Linked DNA regions of Homo sapiens: region 2 is linked to region 1. The links come from fine-mapping of genetic effects on gene expression. A gene starts in region 1. The other region holds a variant in brackets. All regions are shown on one strand. Distances are from middle to middle.

Region 1 (8,321 bases):
GTAGAAAAGCTGTGATTCATGACTGCCGTTTGCACCTGTACTGGGAATCAGAAGGCTTGAGTTGGCTGGGTGCGGTGGCTCATGCCTGTAATCCCAGCACTTTGGGAGGCCAAGGCGGGTGGATCACCTGAGGTCAGGAAGGAGTTTGAGACCAGCCTGGCCAACATGGCAAAACCTTGTTTCTAGAGAGTACAAAAATTGGCCAGGCGCATTGGTAGGTGCCTATAATCCCAGCTACTTGGGAGGCTGAGGCAGAAGAATCACTTGAACCCGGGAGGTGGAGGTTGCAGTGAGCCGGGATCACACCACTGTTCTCCAGCCTGGGCTACAGAGCAAGACTCAATCTCAAAAAAAAAAAAAAAAAAAAAAATTAACTGACAATAGGTGTATGGGTTTATTTCTGGAATCTCAGTTCTATTCCATTGATCTATTGATCTATATGTCTATGTTTATGCCAGTCCTACACTATTTTAGTGACTGTAGCTTTGTAGTAAGTTTTGATGTCAAGAAATATGAGGATATCCCTTTTACAGATGAGGACATGGGGCTCAGACAGGTGACAGCAAGTTGGCCAGTGATCCTCCTTCACAGAAGGTGGGTCCTCAGGAGTGAGCAGCCACGCTTTCCATACTCCCCACCCCCAAAGCAGCAGAAAAAGGCCCGGCCCAGTGCTACCTTTTTAATTAATTATTTTTTGAGATGGAGTCTCTGTTGCCCAGACTGGAGTGCAGTGCCGCGATCTCTGCTCACTGCAAGCTCCGCCTCCCAGGTTCACGCCATTCTCCTGCCTCAGCCTCCCGAGTAACTGGGACTATGTAGGTGCCTGCCACCATGCCTGGCTCATTTTTTGTATTTTTAGTAGAGATGGGGTTTCACTGTGTTAGCCAGGATGGTCTCGATCTGCTGACCTCGTGATCCGCCCATCTTGGCCTCCCAAAGTGTTGGGATTACGGGCTTGAGCCACTGTGCCCAGCCCTTTTTCTTTTTTCTTTTCTTTTTTTTTTTTTTTTGGAGACAGGGTCTCACTCTGTTGCTCAGGCTGGAGTGCCGTGGCGTGATCACAGCTCACTGCAGCCTTGAACCTCACGGGCTCAAGTGATCCTCCTACCTCAGCATCCCAAGTAGCTGGGAGCATAGGCATGTATGACCACAGCCAGCTAATTTTTTTTTTTTTTGAGTTGGAGTCTCGCCCTGTCACCTAGGCTGGAGTACAATGGCATGATCTCGGCTCACTGCAGCCTGCACCTTCCAGGTTCAAGTGATTCTCCTGCCTCAGTCTCCCGAGTAGCTGGGATTGCAGGCGTGTGCAACCACGCGCAGCTAATTTTTGTATTTTTAGTAGAGCAAGGTTTCTCCATGTTGGCCAGGCTGGTCTCAAACTCCTGACCTCAAGTGATCTGCCTTCCTTGGCCTCCCAAAGTGCTGGGATTACAGGCACGAACCTGGCCTTTTTTTATTTTTTATGGAGACAGGGCCTCCCTCTGTTGCCCAGGTTGGTCTTGAACTCTTGGGCTCAAGCGATCCTCCTGCCTCAGCCTCCCAAAGTGCTGGGATTACAGGTGAGAGCCATAGCACCCAGCCCGGTGCTACTTCTGACTCTGTGAAGGCAGCAACCACATCCTCCCTTTCAGACCTCACATAACCAGAAGATTCCCCTTGTGAATGGGGTAGTGTGGGCCTGTCAGCCTTCACGGAGGTCTGGCCTCACAGGCCAAGGGCTTCTGGCTCACAGGGCTCCCTGTGCTGTGGGGAGATGCCAAGGTGATGGTCAGGACACAGCAGCCACTTGGAGAAGAGCCCCTTATGCTGACTTTTGGAGCCCACTCCCACTTTGCTCCCTCTGGCCTCTTCTTCCCTTTATAGCGGTTGGATTGCAGCCCTGTCTACACTGGATAATCATTCCCTGGCCATATCAGTCATCATGATGGTGGTGGCTGGCTTCTTCACCCTCTGTGCCGTGCTCTCAGTCTTCCTCCTGCAGCGGGTGAGTGGTGTGGGCAGGGCTGACAGCAAATGGGAGGAGGCAGGCAACCGTTTCCTGCCCTTGCCACGAGATGTTTTTCACCACTGCAGTTGGGCATCCTAGGCCCCCAAAGGTCCAGTACCTTTCTCCAGGGATCTGGGTGGGGGGTCAGGCAGTGCCAGGCTTCTGGTGACCCCTTTGGGAGTATAACCTGGATGGCTGGCTTCCTGGTGGGCCCAAAGGACAGGCTTCTCTCACCCCACCCCTCTTCGCCAGGTGCACTCCCTCTACCGACGGACAGGGGCCAGCTTCCAGCAGGCCCAGGAGGAGTTTTCCCAGGGCATCTTCAGCAGCAGAACCTTCCACAGAGCTGCTTCATCTGCTGCCCAAGGAGCCTTCCAGGGGAATTAGTCCTCCTCTCTTCTCTCCCCCTCAGCCTTTCTCTCGCCTGCCTTCTGAGCTGCACTTTCCGTGGGTGCCTTATGTGGTGGTGGTTGTGCCCAGCACAGACCTGGCAGGGTTCTTGCCGTGGCTCTTCCTCCTCCCTCAGCGACCAGCTCTCCCTGGAACGGGAGGGACAGGGAATTTTTTCCCCCTCTATGTACAAAAAAAAACAAAGCTCTCTTTCCTTCTCTGGTGATGGTTTGGTAGGATTCTTTTGTCTCTGGAAGCAGTGGGACTGAAGTTCTCTTCGTCCTGTGCACACACAGACACCCCCACACAGTTGGGATCACAGGCTGACCTGGGCCCATCCCAGCTGGAGCTTTCTGCCAGGGTCCTGGGCCTTGACTCCCCCACCCTGCAGGCCTGGCCTGAATCTGGCTTCTTAGACACAGCCCAGTCCTTCCTGCCTGGGCTGGGAATAAGCCTCTCACAGGTTCTGGTGGACAGATCTGTTCCCCAGGTCACTCCAGTGGTCTCCAGGCTTCCAGAGAAGGCTGGTTGCCTCAAGCTCTTCTCTGCCTCATAAACGGATCCAGAGAAGGCTGGTTGCCTTAAGCTCTTCCCTGCCTCGTGTTCCTGAGAAACGGATTAATAGCCCTTTATCCCCCTGCACCCTCCTGCAGGGGATGGCACTTTGAGCCCTCTGGAGCCCTCCCCTTGCTGAGCCTTACTCTCTTCAGACTTTCTGAATGTACAATGCCGTTGGTTGGGATTTGGGGACTGGAAGGGACCAAGGACACTGACCCCAAGCTGTCCTGCCTAGCGTCCAGCGTCTTCTAGGAGGGTGGGGTCTGCCTGTCCTGGTGTGGTTGGTTTGGCCCTGTTTGCTGTGACTACCCCCCCCCCTCCCCGAACCGAGGGACGGCTGCCTTTGTCTCTGCCTCAGATGCCACCTGCCCCGCCCATGCTCCCCATCAGCAGCATCCAGACTTTCAGGAAGGGCAGGGCCAGCCAGTCCAGAACCGCATCCCTCAGCAGGGACTGATAAGCCATCTCTCGGAGGGCCCCCTAATACCCAGTGGAGTCTGGTTCACACCCTGGGGGGTGTGTCACTGTGATGGGACACGTAGGAGTCCACCCTTAAAACCAGCACCCTGTCCCTCGAGGCTGCCGAGTGGGTGTGTGGACTGGGGTGCCTTCCCACAAAACTAGCCTCCGGCTCTGGGCCCGAGACAGCCGCAGGCCCCAGCCACTGAATGATACTGGCAGCGGCTGGGGTTTTATGAACTCCTTTCTGGTATTTTTTCCCCTCTATGTACAAATGTATATGTTACGTCTCAATTTTTGTGCTTAAGTAAAAATAAAAACATTTTCAGACAACACGGGTCCACATGTCTGGTGGACTTGGGAGGACGGGGCAGCCCACAGGATTAGGGGCTGGGCGCCGCTGCTAAGATTGGAGAGCGGGGACAGTTAAGATGCAATAAATAGGTCAAGGCCCTTCCTCAGAAAAGTGAAAAGCAGCTGGGAGGCCTGGGAAGCCAACGCGGCCTCTTCCAAAGGCGCCTTCTCGTGCCAGTAGCTCTCCTTTCAGAGCTGCGGGTCCTGGGGAGGGGCCCTGGGAGCCTCCCGGACGCCGTCGCCCCCACACACGCCCGCTCCGCCGCCCGCGCCCTCACGTGGGCGATCTCTAGACGCCTCTGCGCCCGCTAGGAGTCCCCGGAGACCACGCCGGCCGTCCTCCGTTGTTAACTTCTAGGCTCGCGGGGCCTCCGTATCCCCACGTGGGCCCTGCAGGAACTGGCGGGGCGCGTGACCCGGCGAGGCCCAGAGACAGGGGAGGGGCGCCGGGAGCCGGGCGGATCCGCGTCCCCGATGCGCGCTGCATTTCCGGCGGGCGGCGCTGGGGGCAGCGTGGAGCCACCCAGTGCTCGGCCCGCCCCGCAACCCGCCGGAACCGCCGCCCGCAGCGAGGAAGCGCCCGCGCGGGCGCAGGCGGCCGGAATGGCGGGGCCCGGCTGGGGTCCCCCGCGCCTGGACGGCTTCATCCTCACCGAGCGCCTGGGCAGCGGCACGTACGCCACGGTGTACAAGGCCTACGCCAAGGTGGGTGCCGGCCGATGGCCCCGTGCCCGCCCGAGCTAGCTCGGCTGGTGCCGGCCGGGGAGACTCTGAGAGGTTAGCGACAGTGTGGGAATAGTTAGGGGCGGGAGGCCGGCCTCGCCCCAGCTGACCCTCGGCGGAGGTTGGAGCCGACTGCCACGCTTAGGTCTTAAAGAGCGCACCTGCACCCACCTGCAGGGTCAGTGGCTGAAGAACAGGCTCAAAACAGGTTACCTGGTGGGCTGGGAGGAGTCTGGGACTGGAGCCAGTTGGGAGGCAGAGTGGGCGGTTCTAGAACCCTGAGTGACATGCCTCTGCCGGGAGCACTCCAGAATGCAAAGAAATGGATCAGCTAGCCGAGGGTTGGAGAAGACCAGGCTGAGGCTGTGTCGGGAAGCCAGGATTCCAGAATCAGCATTCCTCACTGGCCTCACAAGGGAAAGCTGGGAAGCCCGGTGCTGGTGTGCAGTAGGTAGACCCGGGGAGGGGCGGGGTGGGGGAACAGAGGGAACCAGATAGAGCCTTTCCAGTCAGACAAGGGTCCTGGCCCCCTCAAGGCAGAGTCCCCAAATCTCCTGTCTCGCAGAAGGACACTCGTGAAGTGGTAGCCATAAAGTGTGTAGCCAAGAAAAGTCTGAACAAGGCATCGGTGGAGAACCTCCTCACGGAGATTGAGATCCTCAAGGGCATTCGACATCCCCACATTGTGCAGCTGAAAGACTTTCAGGTGTGAGCCTGGGGCGGGGCCGCTGCCAAAGGGAGCTGGAGAAGGGACACTCTCTTCAGGCCGCCTCTCTGCCTCTAAACACAGTGGGACAGTGACAATATCTACCTCATCATGGAGTTTTGCGCAGGGGGCGACCTGTCTCGCTTCATCCATACCCGCAGGATTCTGCCTGAGAAGGTGGCGCGTGTCTTCATGCAGCAATTAGGTAAAGGCCTGTGACACCAGCCTGACACTCTGTCCCTTGTTCTCTGCCCCCCACCATCCCACCCCTCCCCCAGGCTTAGAGCCTTGGCACGCATTGCAGCTGCCTCCTGCACAGCCTGAAATTTTATGGTCCTGTTTATCTCATACACTCAACCCTTGCTCAAGGACGCTGTGGGAGAGATGAGGGGGTAACCCCTCTGTGGGGTGTTCAGGCTTCCATACATAGAACATAATATAAGGACCTTGTAGAACATTCCAGAGTCCTGTAGGTAGGACTCAAGTGCTGTGCCAAGGAAAAGAGCAGGATCTCAAGGGCTGGGGCATCCAGAGAAGCTTCTGAGAGGTGGGGAGACTTGTGAAGGGGCAGAGGGAAGGAGGGTGGGCACTCGGGTGGGGTGGCAAACTCCTAGAAGTGGTGTGATCTTGGTGCTTATATGGAAAACATTAGACCAGCCAGGCAGGAACTGGGGTTGTGCAGGCTTGAGGAGGCAGATGTGAGCCGGGGAGGCGAGAGGCAGGCGGGAATGGGCTCTGAACTGTCTCTCTTCGTGGGTCCTGCTCCTCAGCTAGCGCCCTGCAATTCCTGCATGAACGGAATATCTCTCACCTGGATCTGAAGCCACAGAACATTCTACTGAGCTCCTTGGAGAAGCCCCACCTAAAACTGGCAGGTCTGTGTCTGAAACAGCAGGGATGAGGTTTGGAGAGTGCAGAGGCCTCCCTCTGCCTGGGCTCACTCAGCAGCCCTGGTTCTTATGGAGCCCTCTATAGAGTCCTCAAAGAGTGACAGGCCGTGAAGTCTGGGGTTGGGCCCTGTCATCAAAAGGTGGAAGCTTTCTCAGGCTACCCATGCTCAAGTCCAGCAGCATAATGGGTGGAGTTAGGGCTCAGTCTGTGGCCAGAGTTGGGACTCACTGTGTGTCCAGGTTTAGGGGTCAATCTGGGAACAGTGCCAGGGTTCAGCGTGTGACAAGCATCAGGGATCCCTCTGTGGGCAGGGACAGGACTTGGTCTGTCATCAGAATTGGGGCTCAAGTCTGTGACTCCATCTGTGGCCACATAGGAGGGGTGTGGTGGGGGAGTAGGAGGTGGTGACCCTTGATAAGATTTGGATAATTGACACTGGAGGCCAGAGACTGTGATAGAACCTAAGCCTGGGGGGACAGTGAGAGGGTGGGGGCTTATGCAGGTAGCTGGTGTGATCAGGTGGGCTTCCTAGGAAAAGGTGCCCAAGGGAGCTGGGAAGGATGGGTAGGTTTTATACCCCAGAGGCAGATATAGGAGGGTGTTCCAGCCTAATGATGAGCAGAGGCTTGGAAATAGGGTTGATCCTGGCGGGTCTGGAGGGTGGAGAGGAGCCTGGGGTGAGGCTTTACAAGTCAGGAGCTGAAGCAGCTGGAATTCAAGCCCTGCTGCCTCTCCTCTTGCCTGCAGACTTTGGTTTCGCACAACACATGTCCCCGTGGGATGAGAAGCACGTGCTCCGTGGCTCCCCCCTCTACATGGCCCCCGAGATGGTGTGCCAGCGGCAGTATGACGCCCGCGTGGACCTCTGGTCCATGGGGGTCATCCTGTATGGTGAGACCTCTTTTCCCTGCTTCTCACCCTGAGGCCTACAGTTTCCTCAGGCAAGGCCTCTCTGGGCCACTTCTGAAGGGTTCTGATGAAAACTGACTGCTGGCCCAGGGCCCCTGCTGAGGGGCGTCAGGCCAGGCTTGACCCATTCCCTCCCAGCCTCCGCTCTGCCTCCCTTCCACAGAAGCCCTCTTCGGGCAGCCCCCCTTTGCCTCCAGGTCGTTCTCGGAGCTGGAAGAGAAGATCCGTAGCAACCGGGTCATCGAGGTGTGTCTAGCAGGGCCTTAGCGACCACTGGGGGGCAGAGGGAGTCAGGGCCCTGAGGGTTTAGACCTCGTTCTGACCTGCAGAGACTGGAGTATGGGCTCCAGGCTGCCTTTGTGGTGGAGGGGCAGGTTCTAGGCTGGAAGTCGAGGTGCCAGGCTGTCCCAGGGCCTCAGGTCAGCCCACAGCTGGCAGCACAGTGCCCATTTTGCAGGCCCTTGTGGGGAGAATGCAAAGCAGAGCCAGGCCCAGCCTTCCTAGGAGCATAGTCCAGGGAGGGAAATAAGGACCCAGAAACACGATTCTAGCTCAGCTCAGGGCTCCAGCGAGGGTGCACCGGGAGCCCAGGGATGGAGGCCTCGCTCCCCGCTGGCTCCATCATCCTGACCCATCCTGTTCCTCCTCGGTCTCAGATTCCCCACCTGTCCAACGCGTACCTCTGGGGTTCCTCGCAGACCCCTGGGCTAGGGGTAGGGGTGGAGGAGCCCAGTGTGATCTGTCCCTGCCGTTCCCTTCCCTGCAGCTCCCCTTGCGGCCCCTGCTCTCCCGAGACTGCCGGGACCTACTGCAGCGGCTCCTGGAGCGGGACCCCAGCCGTCGCATCTCCTTCCAGGACTTTTTTGCGCACCCCTGGGTGGACCTGGAGCACATGCCCAGTGGGGAGAGTCTGGGGCGAGCAGTGAGCAGACGGCTGGGGCTGGGGTGGGCTGAGGGTGGGCTGGAGGTCTCCTTGCCCCCGTTGGTGGTGAATTGGTGACTCACCCAACAGAGACAGAGGGCGGGCTCAGGGGAGCTGATCTCCCATCTTGGTGAGTGTGGGAGGGTAGGGAGGTGGACCTGACCCCTGATCTGCCCATCCCCAGACCGCCCTGGTGGTGCAGGCTGTGAAGAAAGACCAGGAGGGGGATTCAGCAGCTGCCTTATCACTCTACTGCAAGGCTCTGGACTTCTTTGTACCTGCCCTGCACTGTGAGTCCCAGGCCATGCCTGAAGCCCGTGGGTGCAGCAGGGATGGGAGTCATCTGTGGCTGCAGTAGGTGGATTCCAGAAGTTCTCTATCTAGAATTTTGTAGGCGATAAAGCAGAGCGTAAACCTGGAAT
Region 2 (8,321 bases), 90 kb before region 1:
AAGAACTCAGAAACTCGTTTCAGGGTATGCTGAAGTTAAAAATTAAAAAAAGAACTCAGCCGGGCGCGGTGGCTCATGCCTGTAATCCCAGCACTTTGGTAGGCCGAGGCGGGCGGATCACCTGAGGTCAGGAGTTCAAGACCAGCCTGGCCAACATGGTGAAACCCTGTCTGTACTAAAAATACAAAAAATTTAGCTGGGTGTGGTGGTGGGCGCCTGTAATCCCAGCTACTCGGGAGGCTGAAGCACAAGAATCGCTTGAACCTGAGAGGCGGAGGTTGCAGTGAGCCGAAATCGCGCCATTGCACTCCAGCCTGGCCGACAGAGCGAGACTCCGTCTCAAAAAAAAAAAAAAAAAAAAAAGAATATGTTTTGCTTCATTCATTTTAGACTTTTATCATTTGTCGTAGAACCATAAGGCTGGAGGGTACTTTATTTTTGTTTATTTATTTATTTTTAAATTAGAGACGGAGTGTCCCTATGTTGCCCAGGCTGGGCTTGAACTCCTGGGCTCAGGTGATCCTCCCACCTCAGCCTCCCAAAGTTTGGGATTATAGGCATGAGCCACTGCAGCCAACCTAGAGTGTACTTTAGAGATCGTGGAAGCCATTTTATTTTATAGAAAAGGAAACCAAAGTCCATCTTGGGAAACTGACTCCTTGTTTTTTTTTGTTTGTTTGTTTGTTTTTGTTTTGTTTTGTTTTGTTTTGTTTTTTCTTGAGACAGAGTTTCGTTCTTGTTGCCCAGGCTGGAGTGCAATAGCACGGTCTTGGCTCAAGCGATTCTCCTGCCTCAGCCTCCGGAGTAGCTGGGGTTACAGGCACCTGCCACCATGCCCGGCTACTTTTTGTGTTTTTAGTAGAGATGGGGTTTCACCATGTTGGCCATGCTGGTTTCGAGCTCGTGAGGTCAGGTGATCCGTCTGCCTCAGCCTCCCAAAGTGCTGGGATTACAGGCGTGAGACACCACACCTGGCCGAAACTGACTCCTTTTTAATGGTGGAACCATTTTTGTTTCTTATAGTTATGTTTGGGCCATCCTGATGTTTGTTTAGATTTTGTGTTTTGCTAAAGTAACAGTACAATTTACATTTTTCAGCCGGACACGGTGGCTCACGCCTGTAATCCCAGCACTTTGGGAGGTTGTGGCGGGTAGATTACCTGAGATCAGAAGTTCCAGACCAGCCTGAACATGGCGAAACCCAGTATCTACTAAAAATACAAAAATTAGCCGGGTGTGGTGGCACGCACACGTGGTCCCAGCTTCTTGGGAGGCTGAGGCATTAGAATTGCTTGAACCCGGGAGGCAGAGGTTTGCAGTGAGCCGAAATCATGCCATCTCAAAAAAAAAATTTTTTATTTATTTATTTATTTATTTTTTTTTTTTGGTGATAGTCTCACTGTGTTGCCTAGGCTGGAGTGCAGTGGCACCATCACAGCTCACTGCAGCCTTGACCTCCTGGGACTCAACTGATCCTCCTGCCTCCACCTTCCAAGTAGCTGGGACCACAAGGGTGCGCCACCAGTTTTATTTTCCGTAGAAACAGGCTGGTCTGGGGACTCCTGGGCTCAGGAGTGCCTCCCTCCTCCCACCTTCCAAAGTGCTGGGATTACAGGTGTGAGCCACCATGCCCAGCCAAATTTTTCTTTTTCTTCTTCTGTTGTTGTGGTTTTGTTTTGTTTTTGTTTTTGTTTTTGAGACAGGGTCTCGCTCTGTCATGCAGGCTGCAGTGCAGTTGGCACAGCTCACTGCAGCCTTAACCTCCTGGGCTCAAGCCATCCTTCCACCTCAGCCTCCCAAAGTGCTGGGATTACAAGCGAGAGCCACTGCACCCAGCCTCAGTAACTCGTTAATGTGCCCTCATTCCTACAGTTACCACCACCAAAGTGTTCATTCTTTGGGCCTGTCAGGGTTGATTATTTATTAAATGGAAAACTATCCGATTTAACTAAATTTAAACCCAAAGGATCAATGAGCCCTTTTATTTTTCTATATATGTTAGCCTTTTTTGTTTTTAAATGGAGTGCTTAACTGAATGCCAAAAAGCAGTGTTAGAAATAGCTTTTTAGGATGAAGCCCTAAAAATGTCCTCATTTTTCACAGCTGCTTCTTTTTTCTTACTTTGGGACTTTCAGGTTACGTAAAAGCTCTGAGTAATTGTTTTCCAAAATAATTTGCCTTTCAAGCTTCAATACTAGGTGGAGATCCTGTTCTTAAGTGGGGTGGGGTGTGTGGGGCAGAGAATGCTAGTAGAGTTTACCTAAAAAAAGTTAAGCATGTGGGGGATGTGTCCATAGCTAATAGAATAGATCCTGCTTTACCCATTATTGGATTTAACAATATAATTTAAATCATGGCCGGGCATGGTGGCTCACGCCTGTAATCCCAGCACTTTGGTAGGCTGAGGCGGGCGGATCACAATGTCAGGAGATCGAGACCATCCTGGCTAACGCGGTGAAACCCCGTCTCTACTAAAAATACAAAAAAATTAGCCGGGCGTGGTGGCGAGTGCCTGTAGTCCCAGCTGCTGGGAAGGCTGAGATAGGAGAATGGCGTGAACCTGGGAGGCGGAGCTTGCAGTGAGCTGAGATTGCGCCACTGCACTCCCGCCTGGGCGACAGAGTGAGACTCCATCTCAAAAAAAAAAAAAAAATTTAAATCACGTGGGGAGAGTCTGTTTTAGCCCTTCAGAAAGGGATGTATGGGTTTTTAAATTTTTATTTATTTTAATTTGTTTGATATAGAGTGTTGCTCTATCACCTAGGCTAGAGTGCAGTGGCGCAGTCATAGCTCACTGCAGCCTTGTTGCCCTGGGCTCAAGGGATCCTCCCGCCTCAGCCTCCTGAGTAGCTGGGACCACCAAACCCCGCTAATTTTTTAAGTTTTTTGTGGAGAATGGAGGTCTGTCTTTGTTGCCCAAGCTGGTCTCTCAGTCCTGGCATCAAGCGATCCTGCCTTGGCCTCTCAAAGTTCTAGTTCTGTTTTATAAAAGACTTTTTGGAATACAACCAGTTTGTAATTTGGCTTCCAGAAGACATATGATCAAATCCTTGAAGGTGGTGATCTCCTTGACTTGGATTTGCTGTTGGTGGTCATCTTATTCACAGTTAGGAAACAAAGCCTAGCACTCATGTAGTCAAATCCATGCCCAGCAGTGAACAAAACGAATTGCTTATCATGAAGCACTGTTGTGGATGGGACAGGTAATTACCTCTGGGGAAGGAGTACATAGACCTTTCATTGGGTAAATACTTAGGAGTGGAATTACTGTGTTATATGGTAGGTTTGTGTTTAACTTGATAAGAAACTGCTTAAACCGTCTTCCAAAGTGATTGTATCATTTTATACTTGCACTTTCAGTATTCAGTTAAGGCTAGCTTTAGTTTTTGAAGAGGTGGCTTATAATTTTTTCTTTTTTGAGACAGGGTCTCACTCTGTCTCCGAGGCTAGTGCCACTGCATCTGGCCCTAAGTTCTTGATAATAGTGCATTAGATGGTTGTTCTAATCTATGTTTTTACATAGATAGATAGATAGATAGATAGATAGATAGATAGATAGATAGATATTTTTTTTTT[TG/G]AGACGGAGTCTTGCTCTGTCGCCCAGGCTGGAATGCAGTGGCACGATCTTGGCTCACTGCAACCTCCCTGGGTTCAAGCTATTCTCCTCCTTCAGCATTCCAAGTAGCTGGGACTACAGGGGTGTGCCACCACGCCTGGCTAATTTTTTGTATTTTAGTAGAGACAGGGTTTCACCATGTTGGCCAGGCTGGTCTTGAACTCCTGGCCTCAAGTGATCTGCCTGCCTCAGCCTCCCAAAGTGCTGGGATTACAGGTGTGAGCCACCGCACCTGGCCTTGTTTTCTGATATATTAAATTTGAATATTAGTCTTGTAAGACTTATTAAATATCCACGTAGTTTTGATTAAATGTTCATACTTACCAGACATATTTAGGTGTAGAGATCCATTTTTTTCTTGTTGTAGAAATTAAGGCTGGGCACCGTGGCTCATGCCTGTTATCCCAGCACTTTGGGAGGCCGAGGCAGGCAGATCATGAGGTCAAGAGTTCGAGACCAGCCTGACTAACATGGTGAAACTTTGTGTCTACTAAAGATACAAAAAATTAGCCTGACATGGTGGCGCATGCCTGTAATCCCAGCTACTTGGGAGGCTAAGGCAGGAGAATCACTTGAACCCGGGAGGTGGAGGTTGCAGTGAGCCGAAATCGTGCCATTGCACTCCAGCCTGGGCGACAGGGTGAGACTCTGTCTCAAAAAAAAAAAAAAAGAAATTAAAACGTGTTCACTTCTAGTCCATTTATGTACATGTTCCACTTCATTCTGGGCTTGGATTATGTAGGTAATTTAGGTCTCTGGGAAGATCTTTTCTGCTTCGTTTTTTTGCTACTCTTCCTCCTGCCAGTTACTGCATTAAAGATATATAGGATATTACTAATGTTTAAATTTCAGTGTTCTTAGAACAACAATGTTGAGAGGTTTCTGGGTGAAGTTTTTAAAAATATATATATATGTATGTTAAGGCTGGGCATGGTGGCTCACACCTGTAATTCTAGTATTTTGGGAGTGGTAGGATTGCTTGAGGCTAGGAGTTTAAGACCACCCTGGGCAACATATCAAGACCCCCATCTCTAAAAGTAAATAAATAAAAATATGTTAAGCCTTAAACAACTGGAAGTTACACCACACTTATCTAATACAGGTAGTAGGAAATGTGATTTGAGATAGGTTTCATTTCTTTAAGTTATGATTTCTATAAATAGACAACTAAGACGTTTTTAGATAAGGGTTAGTTTATAGCTACCATTTGTTTAATACTTACCAGTGCATAGTGTTAACCTACCTGTTTTCACATTTAATCTTCATAATCTGCTAAGGGGGGTAGCGTCCCCATTTTACAGATAAGGAAAATAAACTTAAGTTAATTTTCCAGGGTCAAACAGAGAGAGCGAAGAGCCTAGAGGTATCTGAGTGCTAGGTTGTGCTGCATTCAATACCCAAAGATAAAATTTTCTGCCTCCGCCTATCCCCCTACCTGTTCCAGAGGCTGTTCAGAAGGAATTCAGATTTCCAAACTCAATTCAGTGTCCATTTGACAAGAAGAAAGAAAAAATGGGGCTGGGTGCAGTGGCTCGCGTCTGTAATCCCAGCACTTTGGGAGGCTGAGGTGGGCAGATCACTGGAGGTCAGGAGTTCGAGACCAGCCTGGGCAATGTGGTGAAATCCCGTCTCTACTCAAAATACAAAACTTAGCCAAGCTTAGTGGCGCTCGCCTGTAGTCTCAGCTACTCAGAAGGCTGAGGCAGGAGAATCACTTGAATCCAGGAGGCAGAGGTTGCAGTGAGCTGAGATTGTTCCACTGCATTTCAGCCTGGGTGACAGAGTGAGACTCGATCTCAAAAAAAAAAAAAAAAAATGGAAATGCTTTTCATACAGTACTCTATGTAAACATCATTTCTTTTTTTCTTTGAGACAGAGTCTTGCTGTGTCGCCCAGGCTGGAGTACAATGGCATCATCTCACCTCACCTCAACCTCCGCCTCCTGGGTTCGAGTGATTCTCCTGCCTCAGTCTCTCGCGTAGCTGAGATTACAGGCGCCCGTCATCACGCCCAGCTAATTTTTGTATTTTTAGTAGAGACGGAGTTTCACAATGTTGATCAGGCTGGTCACAAACTCCTGAACTCAGGTGATCCACCAGTCTCAGCCTCCCAAAGTGCTGGCATTACAGGTGTGAGCCACTGCGCCCAGCCCAAAATATTCCTAGTAAAACAGTATTATTTTGCATTAGGTGTAGATTAGAGTGTACGTTCCCTTAGGGGATTTATCAGAATATTTTGGGAAGGGGCTGTAGTTTGATAAAGCAATTTGTATGTGTAATTTGTCAGGATGTGTAATTTATTTTGGAATATAATAACATGAGAATTTTTTTTTTTTTTTTTTTTTTTTTTTTTTGAGACAGAGTCTCGCTCTGTTGCCCAGGCTGGAGTGCAGTGGCGTGATCTCTGCTCACTGCAAGCTCCGCCTCCTGGGTTCACGCCATTCTCCTGCCTCAGCCTCCCAACTAGGTGGGACCACAGGCGCCCGCCACCACACCTGGCTAATTTTTTGTATTTTTAGTAGAGACGGGGTTTCACCGTGTTAGCCAGGATGGTTTCGATATCCTGACCTGGTGATCTGCCCATCTCGGCCTCCCAAAGTGCTGGGATTACAGGCGTGAGCCACCAAGCCCGGCCCGAGATTTTTTTTTTTTTAATGTGTGAATGAAGTATATAAGTTTATTTAAGAACTTGAATGGTGCCAGGGCTGGTGGCTCACACCTGTAATCCCAGCACTTTGGGAGCCAAGGGAGGAAGGAATGCTTGAGCCCAAAGAATTTGAGGCTGCAGTGAGCTGTGATTGCGCCACTACACTCCAGCCTAGGCAACAACAGAGCGAGAGCCTGTCTCAAAAAAAAGAACTTGAATGGACATTAGTATTGCTCTTAGTTTTTTTTTTTTGTTGCTTTTTTGGTTTTTTTTGTTGTTGTTGTTTATTGTCTTTTTTTTTTTTTTTGAGGCGGAGTCTCGCTCTGTCGCCAGGCTGGAGTGCAGTGGCACAATCTTGGCTCACTGCAACCTCCGCCTCCTGGGTTCAAGCAATTCCCCTGCTTCATCCTCCCGAGTTGCTGGGACTACAGGCACGCGCCACCACACCCAGCTAATTTTTATACTTTTAGTAGAGATGGGGTTTCACCATGTTGGCCAGGATGGCCTTGATCTCTTGACCTCTTGATCCACCCGCCTCAGCCTCCCAAAGTGCTGGGATTACAGGCGTGAGCCACTGCGCCCGGCCTAGTCTTAGTTTTTTAGTTTTTGTTTTTGTTTTTGTTTTTGTTTGTTTGTTTGTTTTTTGAGTTGGAGTCTTGCTCTGTCGCCCAGGCTGGAGTGCAGTGGTGTGATCTCAGCTCACTGCAACCTCCGCCGTCCAGGTTCACGCCATTCTCCTGCCTCAGCCTCCCGAGTAGCTGGGACTACAGCCGCCCGCCACCACACCTGGCTAATTTTTTGTATTTTTAGTAGAGACGGGGTTTCACCGTGTTAGCCAGGATGGTCTTGATCTCCTGACCTCGTGATCCGCCTGCCTCGGCCTCCCAAAGTGCTGGGATTACAGGCGTGAGCCACTGCGCCTGGCCTATTCTTAGTTTTTAGAAGTGGGGTGTCGCTGTGTTGCCCAGGCTGGAATGCAATGGCTATCTTATCAGGTTCTGTCATATTGTTAGCACCCTACGACCTTGAACTCCTGGGCTCGGGTAATCTTCCTGCCTCAGCCTCTGAGTAGCTGGCACTACAGGTGTGTGCCCCACTATGCCCACCTGGGACATTTTTACTTAGGAATTAATACTCTGGTTATGTGTAAAAATTCAAACAATATGGAAGTATATAAAGTAGTTTTTACGTCCCATGATAATCACTGTTAATTTAAAATCAGAGGGAACCACTGTTAATAATTTCAAGCGAGTATTATACATTAGGGAGAAAAGTATAAACATGCCTATGTAATACTTTTTGTTCTACTTGATTTTATTTGCTTAATTTAAAATATATCTTTCTGTATCAATGTATACGATGTATTTCATTTGACCTGTTCAATATTTTTGCTGCCACAACATATATAGTCAACTCAAAATTTAATGCATTGAACAAAATATATCAAGTACTATTTGTGTACATTGAAGTTATGGTTCTTTCACATTATAGCTATCCAGTCAGTTCGCTGCTATTCCCATGGGTCACAGGAGACAGATGAGGAGTTTGATGCTCGCTGGGTAACATACTTCAACAAGCCAGATATAGATGCCTGGGAATTGCGTAAAGGTAATTGGAACATAAACATATTTGTCTATTTTGGTGTGTAAATATGAACTGCTTCTGCTCCTTTATTGAGAGCAACTGTTTCGAAAACATGCGTTGTTTAAACTGGTTACTTCATGCAACTTGCAGTTAGGAAAGTTTATGGCTACCTATAAAGCAGGATTTTAAGGCAGGCACTATTGACATTTTGGGCCAGATAATTCTTTGTTGTAGGGGACTGTCCTTTACACTGTAGGGTGTTTAGCATCACCTTTGGCCTCTACCTGCTAGGAGCCAGTATGCACACATTCGTATCATGACAACCAAAAATGTTTCTAGGCATTACCCAGTGTCTCCTGAGGGATGAAGTCACCCTTAATTGAAAACCACTGCTATAGCAATAAGGCTAGATGAGCAAAAGGTAACAGTTTTGTACATTTCAAACAATTTACATAGCACGGGCGCGGTGGCTCAC

Which allele goes with the higher level. Alleles are on the strand shown, and positions count from the first base shown. SD is a standard deviation of normalised expression in the study named.
In carriers of allele G in region 2, the expression in skin of the gene that starts at base 4,301 in region 1 tends to be lower than with TG alone (small effect, 0.22 SD a copy in TwinsUK).

The links. PIP is the estimated chance that this variant, and not a neighbour inherited with it, causes the effect.
Region 2: its variant is fine-mapped to the expression of ULK3 in skin (TwinsUK, PIP 0.95).

The regions. Positions count from the first base shown.
Region 1 is chr15:74,839,136-74,847,456 of GRCh38, reverse strand. It overlaps ULK3 (unc-51 like kinase 3), which reads left to right and starts at 4,301. Exons shown (of 16, transcript NM_001099436.4): 1 at 4,301-4,453; 2 at 5,037-5,177; 3 at 5,262-5,382; 4 at 5,948-6,052; 5 at 6,816-6,959; 6 at 7,141-7,223; 7 at 7,744-7,899; 8 at 8,084-8,189. The coding sequence starts at 4,352. It overlaps SCAMP2 (secretory carrier membrane protein 2), which reads left to right. Exons shown (of 9, transcript NM_005697.5): 8 at 1,864-1,984; 9 at 2,240-3,727. The coding sequence ends at 2,374. MIR6882 (microRNA 6882) reads left to right here and starts at 6,750; the gene lies at 6,750-6,815. RefSeq lists silencers at 3,820-4,539, 7,784-7,931 and enhancers at 3,802-4,713, 4,782-5,307.
Region 2 is chr15:74,928,665-74,936,985 of GRCh38, reverse strand. COX5A (cytochrome c oxidase subunit 5A) reads left to right here. Exons shown (of 5, transcript NM_004255.4): 2 at 7,754-7,870. Among named protein-coding and RNA genes, the nearest start is that of COX5A, 5.2 kb to the left of the region's middle. The variant TG/G (reference allele first, on the strand shown) is at 3,577.